2 separate regions of the Homo sapiens genome follow, and region 2 is linked to region 1. The links come from fine-mapping of genetic effects on gene expression. A gene starts in region 1. The other region holds a variant in brackets. All regions are shown on one strand. Distances are from middle to middle.

Region 1 (8,331 bases):
TACCCAACTTGCTGCACTGGGCACAAAGAATTTCAAAGACCCAAAGCCCAGGCTTTCCTCTTACCAGGCAGGCTAGACTTTGCTCTTCTTTTATTCAAATGGTGCCTATGTCAAGGGCAATTATTATTTTTGCTGTTCTCCACGTCACATTTCTTTTGGTGCTGTGGTCTGCATAGCTGATGTTAAAAAATAAAGAAATGTCTGTCTCTGATCATTAATAACATTGATTCTTAGACTACCTTTCCTCTGAATAGCTCAAAGATCTTAAAGATTTCCATCATCTATAATCTAGGTTTGGCTGCCTCCAGCTTCTGGATGAGTAAACTGAGGCAGTTATAAAAAGTTTTATTTACACAATGAGTGAGCAGTAGAGATGCTGTGGGCATCATGATTACTGATTAAGTTGCATTGTAAAGAGAAAGGGGTCCAGATCCTATTTTCACAATGACCTACATACGTGCTAGCACCTGTATTTAATTACATTTCATCTTTGTATGGCTGTATACAACTAAACACATCAAGTTTTGATGGGGGAAAAGAGGAGTGAACTTTCCTTCTCCTTGAGTCATTATATTGCCCCTTTACAAAAAGAGAAACAGAAGAGTTATAGAGATTAAAAATGTCCCCAAAGTCACACTTTTCCCAAGTGGTAGAACTGGACTAGAACTAAGACATTCCCAATCCAGTCTTGCACTTCACCACCCTGCTCTCAGAAATATCTGCCCCGGATCTTCTGACCAATAGTCAAGCCCTATATAAACTATCTCTTACACAGATGAGTTTCCCTCTCAAAAATAAGGTAGACCCTTAAAATGGCACAGCTGTAACTTCATGAATTCAAAAATGTCATGAGTCAAATAAAGTCCTCCCAAACATATGCCCAACGGTGGTCAGAACCTAATCAAATGGGGATCCCCATCGTCTGCTCCAGACAGGCAGATGTGTGCATCACAAAAGCACAGCCTTCACTCTGTTCCTACCCAGTTGCCTCACCAGCCATCTCAGGGTATGGACCCGATCAACGACACCTTTGTCTCATTCCCCAAAGTCTACGGCCCTTCTTTTGTGTACACCTTTTTTCGCTAAAGATGCACATCTGAGTATCCAAGACAATTTTTATCCTTCCCCAGACACACAGAATTCCTGCAAAAACACATACTGGCACCCCCTTCACAAGAGCCAGAATATCCACCCCTCCTATCCACCTCGCTAGTTTTCTCCCAGTTACGTTACTCCAGGCCAAAGTGCATGTGCACGCACCTGCATGCATACCCACCCCCCCAACACACACTCAGGTTAGCTTTACACTCGTAGCCCAGAAAACATCAAAGATGAACAAACACTCCCAGTCCATCTCTTCCTTGATCATGACTTCACCATTCTCCAGCTCCACATAACAGGTCTCATTCCAGCTATGAAGGAGGCTCTGTGTACTCTTAGAAACTCAATCCTTAGAGGGATCTGGACCTGCATTCTGACCTGAAGTGCAGCACCCTCCAATTCCCAGCCCACACCCCACACAAGAAACAACAACACCGTCCAGCTCCCTTCCCAATACACAAAAGTCTACATCATCCCTCTCTTTATGCCCCACTTTTTACAAAACCAGAGATATATTTCAAGTCAGCTTCCCTTTGGCCCCCAAGATCCATAAACATCTCTAGAAACTGAATTATAGACCTTGAAGAAACCTCAACAAGCGTCGAGCTCTGTCTATTTCTGGCAAAATTGCATCAGTTTTACTGAGCCTGGAGAAGGAATTTTTCCAGGGCAGTGTGCCATGCCCCAGTACCCAGCAATGGGCTGAGCATCCAGTAGGCACTCCATTAGCTTTAATTGATTATCAATATGAACTGGTGATAGTGAATTCTCCTATTACATAAGAAACCCATTACAAAACATTATACAACATGCATCCCTGACACCAGGCACAGATAGTGCATTCCTCTACTTACTTCAGTCTTATGCACACATCTCTTCCTGTTCCCACCCAGTGCCAATGCACAAGGACTTTTCCCCTTAAATGTACATCCCTCATTCTAAGCCTCCTCCAATTCTCTTCTCTCTGGGGAGGAAGGAGGGGGGAGGCAAACACCAACACCAACCCGGTGTCCTTCCCTGCAAATGCTTTGTCTTTCCATAAAGAGGATCTGAGCTCACACTTTTCTACCCCCTACATGCCCCAGTGCCATTCCAGCCAAATTTCCCAGTGCACCCTCATGAAGTTCAAACCCCGTGCTCCTCAGATAATCTTCCCCCACCCCCCACACACATCCCTTTGGTAATCCTCAGGCGCCCAACCTTCCACATGCATCCACCTTTCCCTCACACACACAGCCGCCCTCCTACACCACACCCACTCCATGTGTTTGTGCAGGCATGCACAAGCCATCTGTCTTCAACAGGCTGCACCTCTCCTCCTGCTCTGACACCCTTCATAGGCACAGATTTCGCATTAGCTACACCTATGTTCCTGCAAGCTCTTGTCTCCCGCTAAGCACACAGATGCCCATCCGACAGACTCCCCAGAAACACACACCTCCCAGGCACCAAAGAGGGATAGGACTCCAGCTCTTTTGCCACCTTCCCCTACACACACACACACACACACACACACACACACACTTTGGAAAAACATCCCCATCCCTCCCTGACCACTCACTCAATGGTCACAATCTCACTCCATAGATAAGCATATCCCATTCACACACAACCAAACCCTCTAAGTCCAGCTACACTCCAGTCCTCACCAACACAAAATCCCACACACTCTCCCTAGGGGAAATACCCCAGACTTTCTATCTCCCTTCAACACTGTCTACCGGAGCCTGCATTATTTTCCAACCCCCTTACCTCCTAACACGATACCTAAGTCTGTGTGTTTGCGCCCAAGGCAGAGGGGGTTGGAGTTTATCCTCCACATTCTACCTTTCAGCTTTCTTTGTGTGACATGTCAAAAAGGAATTGAGGGCAGGCGGGAGGCAGGCTGAGTACGCTGGAGAACTTCTGAGTGTTGTGAAAACAGGACCTCTGGAAAAGTCTCCTCTATGTTACAACTTTCTCCCATCCTGACGTTTAGGACAGAGCGCTTCCATGTTCTCCTCGTTCGCTGTTTTGCGGGGTAGGAGCGGGCACCTCTTTATTTAAAAAGCAGGTCGCTCAGTGCACTCCATAATCAGCTGAGTTACAAACATCAGGCTCCAGGAGAAACACCCACCCCTTCCAGGCTCCCCTCCCCTCTCAGCAGGCCCTCGCCCCCGCCTCTTCACACACATAAACAAGTCCACAGGCGCACAGTCTCCCGAGCTCTCTAGCTCTGAGCCCGGCGCTCCCGGGAGCAACCTCCATTCGGACTCAGAACCTGCCGCCCGCCGCCAGAGGCCGAGGCCAGACGATCTTTTCGGTGTTTCCCCCACCGGCAATCCCACCCCAGCCTCGATTCCAGCAAAAGGGATCCTTTCTAGTCCACAGCCCCGACACCGTCGGACGCAAGGGTCTCAGTGCCGTGCATCTGAAGCGCAGACGACGAATGAACGCAGCAGCCAAACTCCCGCAAAGAAGCAGCGCCTCCTGGACGCGCACCCACTCCCGCGGAGAGCAACAAGCAGAATCCTACTCCCCCATCCCATGCCCTCGGCCCTCGCCCCTCCTGTCCCTAACCTTCAACTCCCAAGCGTCCCAAATTTCATCAGGAGCATCCACCACTGAGTAAAGCTCTGGGGCAATGGGACAGTTCGGTCCGTCGTGGGACCTTTAAACTCCGACCTGGCTGGCTGCGCGGGTGCCCAGGTCTCCCGGCCTCCCACGCCACCGCTCAAAGTCCGAGAACAGGCTGGACGATACCGCAAGGAGATCCCCTGGGATGGCCGGGCCCGGGTGCCCGCCGCTCCCCGGAGGGGTCCCAGATGTGCGGGCTGCGTACGGAGCTCCAACATCTGCGCAAAGGCCCAGGGTGGGGTGGCCACCGGGTGGGCGCTGGCCAAGAGGAGCCCGGGGCGCGAGGTCTTTTCTGAAAAAACCCTTTCGGGGAACTCCAACGCAGGTACGCGGCGCGTGGCAGTGAGTCCCAACTCCCAAAACTGGAACGCGAGGTTCCGGGTCCTGAGCTGCGCGTCCCCTCCCCCCAGCCCACGCCCGGGCCAGAGTGGTGCTGGGGCGAGCTGAGAATCAGGCTCAGCGGCCGGCAGAGTGCAGGGCGTGTGCAGGGGAGCTGCCGCGGCACCTCCCCGCCCGGAGTTCTGTCTGCCACCCCCTTTTGTTATAGGATGCGCTAGGAGCTTTCTCGGAGGAGCAGGCGGGTCGGTTGGGAGTGGTGGGTGGTTGATTCTGTTGAATCTCTTTCCTGCTCTTTCGTCGTCCCCATTTCCCCTCTTCTGCCCCCACCCTTTCCAATCCAGGTCCCTTAAACCTGATCACTTTCCCAGATTGAGGGAAGCTTCTTGGGCAGCCGAGGGACAAGAGGGGAGGAGGTGGAGAAGGGTGTCCGTGTCTGTGTGTGTGTGTGTGTGTGTGTGTGTGTGTGTGTGTGTGTGTGTGTGTGTAGCGGGGTGGCTGCGGTTGCGCTTCGGCCTGAGCAGATCCCAGCGCAAACTTTGGGGAAGACACAAGCCCGGGAAAGTGAGTGAGCGCGGCGCGATGGGGGTGGGGCGGGATGCGGATCTGGGGCCCCCCGCACCAGTCCACTGGAAAATCCCTCCCCACGTGGACCCCCATCCCCAAACCTGCCCACCCAAGGTGCCCGCCGCCTCCCCTTACCGTGGCAAAAGTAACCATGGCATCCGTGTGGCCGTTTCCAGGGACGTCGACATGAAGAGAAAGGTGGACGCGAGCTCGGTCATTCAAAGTCTCCCCCACCCCGCCGCAGCCACTACCCAGCAGGGGAAAAAGGAGAGGAAGAAAGAAAGGAGAGAGAAGAAAGTAGTTGCGCCGGGCTGCGTCGCGGGGCGGTGCGCGGAGCTGTTCGGAAGGGAGAGGAGCTTCAACTCTGAGTCCCGTGAACAGAATCTGCGCGGTTATAACCAGCCAACCCGGCCAGATGGCTCCGCGCTCAGCGCCTTAACCCCTTCCGCGCCGCGCCGCCCTCCCCCGCCGGCCCGCGCCGCGCCGCGCGCGCCCGCGCCCCAGAGCCCCCCCCCCGCCCTCACTTCGGGACCCGTGGCGGGGAAGGGGTCATTTCTCCTGGCCCCTCTTGAAAAACAAAACCAAACCAAACAACAACAGCAACAAAAACTTCCAAATCTGTAGTATTCTTCAGTAACCCCCACCCTTGAGTTCCCTTTTAGAGATCCAGGAAAAAACGAAACGTTAAATGTATCGTAACAGGTTACATGTTAGTGTCTTCAGCCTTTCTTAGTGGTTCTTTTTCTTGAAATTTTTCTTTTTGATCTTTTTTCTTTCAAGATTTTCTTTACAAGGCATCAGGGCCTTTTCCTGCCTTTTTCCTCAGGAGGATCAGGTCTGAGGCGTAAACTCCTCCTCCAAACCTTAGACCCTTCCAGCTCCAGATCTCTCCCCACCCCCTACCAAGCCCACCCGCCACTCCTCCCCCCACCCCACAGCACGAACACGCCCAAGGACAATCGCTCCCCGGCGAACTCCCCGCTCCCGGGGACCCGCACCCAGGACGCTGTGTCGGCGGTCAAGGGAGGTCAAGGTAGAGGGGCGTGGGGGCGGGTGGTCCGAGGGACTAGGGAGGGGCTGTGTGTGCGCGCGCGTGTTTGCGGGAGCTTGAGTGTGGAAGGGAGAGGGAGATGGATCGCAGCCTCCCATTTCACCCATCCTCCAACTTCTAAACCCCTTCCTTCCAAACTAGGATGGGGCCCTGCAGCTAATCACTCGCCCAGCACCCACCAGTCTGCACGCGGGGACAGCGCGAGAAGCAGGAAAGGCGAGCAACAAACAAACCTGTTCGTGGCGCCCCGAAAGTAATGACGCTCACTTCCCCACCGGTGGATACATTCGAGGAGAGGATAGGGGGAGGGGGTCAAAATCTCTTATTTGGAGATAATTTTAGCTGCCCGTTAGACCTCACTTGCTCCGAGCCGTTCTCTCTAAATTTACCAAGTTAAGTCATCTTGATTTCGCCCATTTGCCATCGAGAGAAGGGGGAAAAATACCACTTAGTGATCAACGAGAAATCGAGAGCCCGGAAGCAGAGTTTTGCCCACTTGCCCGCTTCCCGAGTCCTTGCGTGGTGGACCTCCGCTCCAAGCCCCTCATCCCTTCCTCCCTGCCACTTCAGCCGCTCCTCACATCATCTCCTGCCAGGACCTTTTGACTCACGCGCGACTGGGAAGGGCAGCGAGTATCCCGTTTCCTCCCTGCCCTGTCGTTCGAGGTGTCTAATAAGCAAGCCGTTCCGCGTTTCGGTTAGGGCCCAGGTTCAAAAAATCCAAATACCTTGAAATTGCTTGAGAATTTGGTTAAACATCGGAACTGCACCCACCAGTTCAGGACCAACCGGCCGCAGAGAGTAGCTGGGGGGTTGGATGGGGAGGTGGGAAGGGAGGGGGGAGTCTGGGGGCTGCGTACTAGATAGATTGTACCTGCCTCATCATTATCCTGGCTGATGGGGGTTGCCACATCGAAAACCGCCAGAAGCGCCCACCGAGGCCCAGGGGCGTCACCTCCTGCGGTCCCTCGCAAGGGTAGGGTAGTCCTTCAGTGGCTCCCCTCGTGCCAAAATATCGACGTCTTCCTCAGGGCCAGAAGAGGCTGCCGAGTCGTTCCCTCCACCCAGCCACACAGCACCATGAAGGTTTGGATTGGGCGTGCTCTGTCGGGTTCTGCTTTTCTCCCTCTCATCTGGCCCGCCTCCCTGCCCTCCCCCACTTCCCGCACTTGCCCCCCTCCTCCAGCTTCTCGCCCTGGTCAAAGGAGGGATTCAGGCCCCAGTTTCAGATCCACTGGCAGAGTTCTTTTCTCAAGCTCCAGGTCCTCTGGGAACCTGAAGATTGCAAGGAAAGAGGTGGTTGGCTCCTGCTGCAGCAGGGAAGGGGTTAAATACATGTGCGGGCTGATCTGCAGGCAGCTCCCAGGTCCCTGGCAGTCTGGAGGGAGGAGGGGAAGGGGGGCAAACAAACTTGAAAAATCAGAAGAAAGGAAGGAGAAGAAAAGGCAGCAAGCAGTGCGTTTAGGACTTGGATTTGTTCTGCAGATGCCTTGCACTGGCTGGCCGCGTCATTTTGCCGGGACTTTCGGGGATCCCAGAGTTTGTCTTATTTCCAACTCCAAGGGGTTTTGTCCTAAGCTGGTGGGTCTGTCTTTGCTTGCAATCAACAGGCCTTGTAATATGAGAGGTGACACCTTAATCTTGCCAAATATGTGCTGTGTCTTTGTGGAGAGAGGGGAGGAGGGACTGAGGGAAGGAGGGAGGAAGAGGGAGAGACCCAGACAGGAGCAGAGGGTGAAAGATGCACTTTTTCTCAGAAGGATTGGTTTCCCAAAGGGAGAGCCTTAGCCCTTTTCTGAGTAGAAGACCTCTTTCAGACAGTCTACCTTGAGCACCGCCAACTGCCTTTTCCTTTACTGTTTTTCTTTAGACTTCAGACCTAAAGATTTCTTCCCTCTAAGACTAGGGACTGACCCCCCAGCTCGCTGTTGTGGCTTCCAAGGGAGTGGCAAGGTGCTGAATGAAGAAGGTGGGAAGAAAAAAAGAATTAGAAAGGTGTATTTTTAAGAAGACAGAATAAAAAGATCATTCTCTACTATGTAGAGCCATTTTTAAACTAGAATATTGTGACTTCTAAGTAAATCCGTGTTTCTAAATAGAGATTTTTCTTTTCTATAGAAATACCATTGGTATGGATAGCAAAAGCAAAGATCAGGACTGGAAAGTAAGCTGGCTGCGAGCTTGTGCCCTGTACATAGGCCTGGTTAAGGAAGCATCCAGGATGAGATCTTTTAGGATTCACTAGGTAGGTGCTCCTCTCCAAGTTGACTTCGTGGCCATGACTTTGGCTGCCCATCTGTCGACTGTATTTTTAGGTTGCTGAACTTTCTTCTTCTCCCTGCTGCATCTGAGAGTAAGGCCCTGACTCCTGGAAGTGATTTCTGAGAGCAGGAATCAGATCTTGTTTTTGAAAACCCCCTTTAAAACTCTCTCCTAAAGCAAATTTCCAGAGCGTGCCTTCTGGTTACCCTTATCTTTTGCAATAGCACCACTCTGTGGTTGGAACACTGAACAGAAACAAAACGGCAACGTGGGATTGAATTTTGCCTTTATCTTGTGAAAACAGCACTTATCTCCCTATGTTTGAGCTCAGTGGACTGAATGCTGGTGGTGGGGGCTCAGCGTGTGGTGAGGGAGGGGGTCTTGTGCAGTGGCAGTAT
Region 2 (8,331 bases), 27 kb before region 1:
AATGGAAAGAAGGCTGAACCATCTATGCAGTTATCTAAGTATTCTGCAGACACCATACTGGGGTCATTTTAGTACCGGGAAGCACCAGACTTCTGCCTCTAAAACCTAATTTCATCATAAAGAAGAGTCCTTCTTCTTAGGCCACATCCTTTACATAAATCCATCCTTAATAATTTGCACCCTTCAGTGGTCTTTTTCTCCATATCCTCATTCTTGTGGTTCCTTCTGTCTGTCCCTCCTACCGCCCACCCCCAACCATCTCTGCCTGTCCACCTATAACCCTGCTGCAGGACTGATCTCAAATGCCACAAAGGCTACCTCCTCCACGAAGCCTTTTGTTATCTGCCACCTTCGAACTCCCTGGATATTTTCATGATCTCTTTTGTAGCTCTTCTATTTTACCTTGTCATTTGTGTATTTGTTTACCTCTCATGACAGTTTCTAAGCTGTGTGAGGGCAGAGATTATGTTTATACTGTTGGACAGAAAAAAGACAGTTGATTCAGAAGGCACTATATGTATAATTTGAGAAAGGCATTTTGAAGTCACTAGTATCTCAGGATGTATGAAATCATGATTTTAAGGATTTGATTTGCTCAAAACATGTTCTCTGGTGTTGCTGCTCTGAAAATAACCCTTTACTAGTCTGGAGGCAGGGTCCAATGCTAGTCTAATATTGTCTTGAAGAAGGCATCCCCTGGGATGCCCTGCAGACCACTTTCCAGTCTTCCAACCCTGGATTGAGGTAATCTATGGTGAAACCTTTTCCAAAGAAGCCTGTCCTCCTGCCTGCAAATCATCCTAGCTTTCTGTCATCTCCATCAGTGAGAAACATTCTGAAAAGAGTCATATAAAGAGCTCTACCAAGATGTCTTCCCTGGCTCTCTTCAGTCACAGTGAAGCTGCTCTGGAGAACCAAAAAGCTAAGGCAGGCCTGGCCTTGGCACATGGCTATGCATGCAGTGTGCGCAAAAAGAACATCCATCATGTCATAATACATGGGTGTTAACTCTGTCCTTCCAGGGTAACAAGGAAGCATTATATTAGTTCAGGAAAGAGAGATTTAATAAGCATCTTAAGAATGTGAAGTTAAAGTCAGGTAGAATTAGAGGGTCCAGCTGTTCTCCATCTGCCTTCACTGAGGATGTTAAAAGAAGCAAAGGTGAATGGAATCCTAACTATTGTTCCATATCTGGGGTGTGGCATGATGTGTCCATGCCGCTGCAAATTCATACTTGGCTATCACTTGCTGGGTGCTTACAATGCACCAGGTACTATTCTAGGAACCATCACACAAATTATCTTACATGTTATATATTATCTTACTTAATCCTTACCTCGAGCCTCTGTGGTAAGCATTATTTCTTATTATAGAGGAGAAAGCTGAGGTTAGAGAATTATTAAAATTAATTATTATTAAGTAGTAGGTCAGTAACTTGAATTCAGGTATTCTGACTCTAATCCTAATGTTCTTCCCATTAAACTAGAGATGGCAAATTGGTAATCCAAGTTCTAAATCAAAGTAATTGGTATATAGCTACTTAGAGACCTATGTGGAGGATTAAAAAACCTTTGAAACTCAATGAGAGAGAGTGCTGTGATTGATTAGTGATGTCTGCTGTAGGCAAAGGCATGACAGTGGAAAAGAATGTTGTAATTGATTAGTGATGCCTACTGTAGGAAAAGATGTGAGAATGGCAGCACAGTTGCTGTATTTATTTGTCATCCCTGCACTAAGACATAATTCAATGAAAGAACAGGCCGTCCTGTGACAACATTTTACCACAAATTCAGTTTTCTACCACATTCTTTTAAAATTTCCCCATACACATCATACACATAACCCTTGGACATTTTCAACATTCTCTAGTTTTCTTTTCCAAGTCTTACGAGTTCTTCATATTTCTTTTTAAATAGCTATTCCAAAATAAGAGTCGTGGATCAGCATGGTTTATGCCACAGGTTTCCCTTCTAAGGGCTTCTTCCTGTAGGCTGCCCCAGTTCAACCTTCCTCATTATCCAGAGAGCTCCTTTGGGGACAGAAAACCTTCTCAACACATAGAGAGGGCACATTTTATGTGACCCTTGAATACACTTCCCTGGGACAATCATTATTGACAGAGGGCTGTTGCTGATGGAGCATGAAGAATGAAGTCAAGGAGAGGCAGGTGTATGAGGACATGGCGGGAGGGTGGTAAGGAGATGGGGATTGGCTTGGGGGTCAAAAGGCAGAAAGTAGGCAGCTGAGAAGTTGCTTTCAGGGTTTAGGCAGGCCGGTGCAGCCTGTTTTGAGCAGAGAGCTGAGGAGAGCACAGAGAACATGGAGAATGACCAACAGCCCATGTAGCCAACCATTTAAAAACTAATAATAAAAGGAAAGAATAAGGGAAAAAATCTCTTCTTCACTTTAAGTCTGCTGTCTTAATCATCTAAGTCATCTGGATGTTTTGCTGCATGGAGGACTGACCACAGCTGAGAACCTAGAGACCAGATCCTACCCAGGGCCTCCTTTAAAGCGATTAAACTCGAATCAGACTATGCTGCACCTCCTGACAGCACAGACGTCATGCTTGGAGCAGCAACCCTGGGAAATGCTCTTTGGGCAAATCAAGACCTTAAAAAATAATTATGGTTCGCACATCCTGAAGCAATAATGACTTCAAAACTCCCTTCACATGTGATTTATACATAAGTATAGTTCTCCCTTGAACCTTCCCCCCCAATCCCACTCTGCACACTCCACCCAAATCCAAGTGGTTAGAAAGTCAATATTCATAGGCCCTGCTAAAAGGCCCAGATGGAAAAACCCTGATCTGTATCAGGAGGAAAAGAACTGCTAACACCACCTGCCATTAAAATTCTCATACACCCAATTGTGCATAAATGCGAATGTGTGTGTGTGTGTTCCAAGATGTTCAAAGAAAAAAGGAGAAAAATTAATTAAGCCTACACCTCTCTGCCAAGGAATCAAATGCTCTCTGGGGCCTGGTATTAAGGGAAAGAAATGCAGTCTTACAGAGCTGCTGGTTCTGATCCAGTTTATTGTGGAAAGAGGGGAGAATGAGGTTAAAACTGGGATGGGGGCTCTGCTATTGACCTAGCTGGTTTTATTTTTGTTATCCCTGGGAAGGTGTCCCAGGTGGTGAAAGGGAATGTTCATTAAATGGATACCTATTCTATGCCAAGCAGTGGCACACATAGAACTAGAAAGGAACAGACAGAGATGGAGAAATTCCTTGGATGACTGGCCTTGTGGTGATAAAAGGATGAAAGCAAAGTTTCCATGGAAGAAACTTAAAATGCATATTGCTAAGTGAAAGGAGCCAGTCTGAAAAGACTACGCACTGTATTATTCCAACTACTATGATATTCTGAAAAAGGCGAAACTCTAGGCAGTCAAAAGACTGGTGGCTGCCAGGGATTGGTGGCAGAGGAGGGAGGAGGGATGGGCAGGTGGAGCACAGGAGAGTTTTAGGGCAGTGAAACTATTCTGTATGCTATAATGGTGGATACATAACATTATGCATTTGTCATAACCCATAAAACTGTAAAACACAAAGAATACACCTTAATGTAAACTATAGACTTGAGTTAATAATGATGGGCTAATATTTGCTTATTAACTGCAACAAATGTACTGCACTAATGCAACATGCTAATAATGGAGAAAACTGGGGAGTGAGGGGGAGGAGTTATACGGTAACTCTGTAATAGCTGGTTAATTTTTCTGTGAACTTAAAACTGTTCTAAAAATTGAAGACTATTAATTTTAAAAAATGAAAGGAGACTAGCTCTGCCTCTGTGAAGCCCCAGTGGGAGGGTGGTGAGGTGGGACCAGGAAAAGGGAAAAGGCCAGAGGACAATCTGGCCCTTTAGGAAAATTTGCAAATGAGGACGAGCATCTGGAATGGCAAATCAGATATTTTTTCAATGTCAGACTTAAAGGCATGAATCAAAAGCACAGATCTCACATGCTAGAGAAGAAAGAACTGGAGACCAGAGACCCCAAAGAGAAAACAATTGAAGGAACGCAGCCCCTCGAAGGTCCTGCTGATAAAATGTGCTCTGGGACCAAGGCCTTTTCCGGGAAACCACAGCCACAGCACCTTGATAACCTGCGTCTAGGACATCCGCTAAGCTCTGGCCTTTTCTCTCTCGTATTGCAACTGCAGGTGTAAAGAAATGGAAATGAAATTTCACAGCCAGGCAATGACGCAATATGCACGTTCCTCCCTGAAGATAATTGAAATAAGAAAACAGCACAAGAGAAGATGAAATCTGCTTATAAGACCCCTGGGAAATAGCCTCTTGCTGGGGTGTGAAGGGAAGGAGGGAGTGCAGTGTGTCACTCTAGCAGGGGAGCAATGGCAACATCTTTGAGAGTGAAGGACAGATGTGTCTTTAACTGGGGGACCTGGGGACAGACACTGAGCCTTGAGCTTCCCAAGCCCTCTTTTCACTCTTCCACTGGCAAGAATTGGCTGCCTCTGAGTATAGGGTTTCCAAGAAACTTTATCAGGGTCAAGGAGGAAGGGTGTGGTTGGCCTCCATCCTCTGACGTCATCTCATTTGAGAATCCAGAAGAGGAAGAGAAGATGAGCTCTCGGTACAGAAAGAACAGGTTTTAGTGAGCCAAACCAGGCATTACCTTTGGGAGGAAGAACACAACTGCAGTGCTCACCAGGGGAAAAATGGAGACAGAAAGGAAAGCCAATCAGCAAAGAGTAAGCTCCAGGCTTCGTTGTTACAGTCAAACCTGCCCGGCCCCCAGTTCTAGGGCGAGTGGGATTTTCCATGGCACGTCAAGAGTCTAAACTAAAGAGTGAGTTACCATCCTATAAAATAGAAGAAG[G/T]GTTTGGGCATGCCCATGTGAGTGAGCAAGGTTGTCTGTCAGTGTGCGTGTGCACGTGTGTGTGTGTGTGTGTATGTGTGCTTGCTTTCCCTACTTACTGGTCACAGAGAAATGAGGACCAGTTTGTCTACCTGCCAAAATCATTTCAGAGCTTGTTTAAAGGACTTCCAAAGAAGGAATAAGCTCCGTGTGGGAAGGGATTAAACCTCATTCAACTTTTTGCCTGGTTGCGTGGCATGGGATAAACATTTGCCAAAGTGAATGAGGGTTAGTCACCTGTTCTGGGAATTCATAGTGCCACCCCAAGGAAGTTTTTTCCTTAATCCCAGCTCTGATCTTTGATCTTATTCCAGATTTCTGCAGGCAAACACCTTCTGTTTTCACTTATTCATTCATTCATCAACTTTTTATTGGCTGCTTATTATAAGCCAGACACTGTCACGTGTGGTTTGGAATGCTACTAGGAACAAGTGGGAATTGTTCCTGCCTTCAAGAAGTCCAGAGTCTCCTGAGAAAGGTGTTGAATCAGGAACTACAATAAGGAATGCTGGGTGCTGAGGATGCTGCAGCATGCAATGGGAGTGTGTGATAGGGAGCCCCAGAATGCGACAGAGGACTAGGGACAGCCTCCCAGAGGCGGTCATGCTCAAGTGGCCACTGCTGCATACTAACAGTCAGGCAAGAAAGGCGTGGTGGCAGGGAAGAGGAGAGCTGCAGTAGTGTGAGCAAATACCCAGGTGCTGTGGCTCAGAGGCCAGAAGGTGCATTGTGCATTCTGGGAAACAAAAACAGCAAAACCCAGGATGGCTGGTGCATGGGGTATGAGTGAGAGAGAGGTGGGGAGAGTGTGAACAGTGTTGAAAAAACAAGGACTCAGAGGCACTGGAGAGCCATTATAAGATTTCAAGTAGAAAAATGACCCAATTAACTTTGCAAAGTATGGAGGATGGCAAGAGACAATGGTGGTTTTGATTAGCGTAGCGGCAGTGGTGACGAGGAGATCTGGACAAACTCCAGAGGCATTATGAGAGTTAGAATGATGAGGACTTGGAGGCTGCCCGATCCTGCGGATGACAGAGAGACAAGCTGAGGTGACTTCCAAGTCTCTGGACCACACACTAGAGTCGCAGGTGGTTCCATTTATTAAGGTGAAAGACAATGGAGAAGACTCACTGGAGTTGGGAAAGTTTGGGGCACAAAAGGAGCCCCTGTTCAGCTTAGCATACACTGAGTTTAGGAGCCTACAAAGACATTTGGGGTATCTATAGGGAAGCTGGATATATGGGTCTGTAGCTAACACAAAGTAATTGTGCATTTGAGAGATAAGATATAAGAGACCTGGGACACTTAGAATAGGCTATGGAGAGTGTATGGAGAGAGGAGAGCCCAGGTCAGATAAAGGAGCAAAAGTCAGCTAAGGAAAGCACGCAGAAACAGCCACAGAGGTAGGACAAAAACCAGGATGCCGTGGTATCCTACCAAGGAAAGAGGGTTTCAAGAAAGAAGACATCATGGAAGGGCCAGGCAAGGCAAAGCCAGAGAAGGGTCTGTGATAAGGCGATGGTAGAAGCCAGATTGCAAGGGGTTTAAGCATTGAACAGGAAATGAGGAAATGGAGCCTTCACTAAAGAAGTTAGGTGTGAAGAGGAGGACACAGTCAAGGTAGGAGCTGGAATGGAGGAACACAGGAACATCAGTGGCCACCAGTCACAGAACCCCGAAACTTCCTGGCAATGACAAGATTCGGTTAGTTTCTAACTTCTGACCATGCATACCTCAAATCCTAATATGCATGACTTTATACAGTTGCTGCTCTTTCTGGAATGCAAAGCACTTCCTGTTTCCTCTCTGTTCTCGTTTTATCCTGTGCAGCAAAAGGAGCGAGATGTTATGTTCTTCCTCTTGTGGGTGAGCAAACCCAGGCACAGACCGTGTCTGCTCTGTGAGCCTGTGGACCTGGGGACGGGCAGTGGAGATGGGAGGCCGTTCTGCGGGCCCCCTGCCTCCCTCAGCACCTCTCTCATACCTGCCCCTATGGGCCACTCAGCACACTCATGGTAGCTACACAGCAGTCATTTAGGGACTCTGGGTCAACTCGGGCCCAAATCACTTGACCTACGGGAGCTTGCTCTGCTTCCCTGTCTATTCCAGGAAGCCTGGTAAAAATCTTGGCAAATATCAGAGCCCAGAAACAGAATTTGGTCCTTGTCATCCCATCTGTGCTGAACCGTGGGAGGGAATCTTACACAAACCTCCCCTCCCAGAGCCAGACCCTCAGCAGAGCTCTGACCCCGAGTACCTGCTCCAGGGGCTGGGGGTGGGGGTGGGGGTGGAAGAGGACCCCCAGAGCTCACGATCAGGGCTGCAAACAGAATGCAGACCCTTTCTCTCCTCTGTCCCTAGAGCTCTCTGAGGAGCCAGGTCCACCGTGCCTGAGGTGGTTAGGTGCCGTTGGCCCCACAAGTGGGGATGGATTAAGTACTCTTGGCTGGGTTCCAACTGGGTCTGAGGGGTACACAGCTCCCAGGGTCCCACTGATTTCTGGGGTGAGTAAAGGAAGCTAAAGGCCGCTGCAAAAATCACAAAAGGAGGCTACCATCCATTTATTTTTCACTCATCAATCAATGCGATTCTATGTGATTCTCAAAAGGGCTGTCACTGCCCTACTAAAGGGCATTTGGAAATGTGTCAAGGTGTTTCTGGTTGCCATGGTGACCGGAAGGGGATGATGCCACTCGCATTTAAAGCTTGCAGTGCATCCTGTACCACTAAGAACCATCCCAGCCCAAGTGACCAGTGCTCCTGCTAAGGAAAGCTCAACCTCAGCTGACGACTGACAGCCCACCATTGACTGGAGGTCCGGACATGCTTGGAGGAAGAAGTCACAGATAAGCAAACATTTGCCTCTCCTGCCCCAAACATGCCCTCCTTTTTCTCTAGTGGCCCGCACAGCTGTGAGGGTTATCTGGGCTGGGGTGGGCGATCATGACCCCCAGACTGCCAGAGAATGTCTTGCTTTCTCAGACTCTGTGGACTGCCTGATTCTAACCACTGACCCTCACTCCTGACACTTCTCCCTGCACATCCCTCACCATCCATGAAAGGCACTTCAGCCAAAAGAAGGATAGAGCCAGCTTCTTGCAAGGCAGCATCTTGGAGTCAGCAACATGTTCCCGATCAGCTGCTGTGTGCCCTGAGCAAGACATGAACTTCTCAGAGCCACACCTCCTTTCCATTGTCCCCAGCACCCATCTAAACAGGGAATAGAACTTTGTCTCTCACTGTCGAGGGTGCAGGTGGGCTATCCTGGAGGATATGAACAGGAATTGGGGCCCCCTCAATCACAGGGGCTATGTGTGTGTGTGTGTGTGTGTGTGTGTGTGTGTGTGTGTGTGTGTGTGTGTTGGGGAGGGGTTACAGAGGCCAGATGGATAGGGGGCTGTGGGCTCTGTTAGGACAGGACTCCTGGAGTCCAAGGGG

The links. PIP is the estimated chance that this variant, and not a neighbour inherited with it, causes the effect. A credible set is the group of variants that fine-mapping cannot tell apart.
Region 2: its variant is the best candidate, but not a certain one, in a credible set for the expression of NTF3 in sun-exposed skin (GTEx, PIP 0.62).

What each region holds. Positions count from the first base shown.
Region 1 is chr12:5,428,767-5,437,097 of GRCh38, reverse strand. It overlaps NTF3 (neurotrophin 3), which reads right to left and starts at 4,990. Exons shown (of 2, transcript NM_001102654.2): 1 at 4,756-4,990. The coding sequence starts at 4,773. RefSeq lists an enhancer at 3,648-4,173.
Region 2 is chr12:5,455,458-5,463,788 of GRCh38, reverse strand. The region is part of intron 1 of NTF3 (neurotrophin 3); the gene reads right to left. Among named protein-coding and RNA genes, the nearest start is that of NTF3, 28 kb to the right of the region's middle. The variant G/T (reference allele first, on the strand shown) is at 4,852.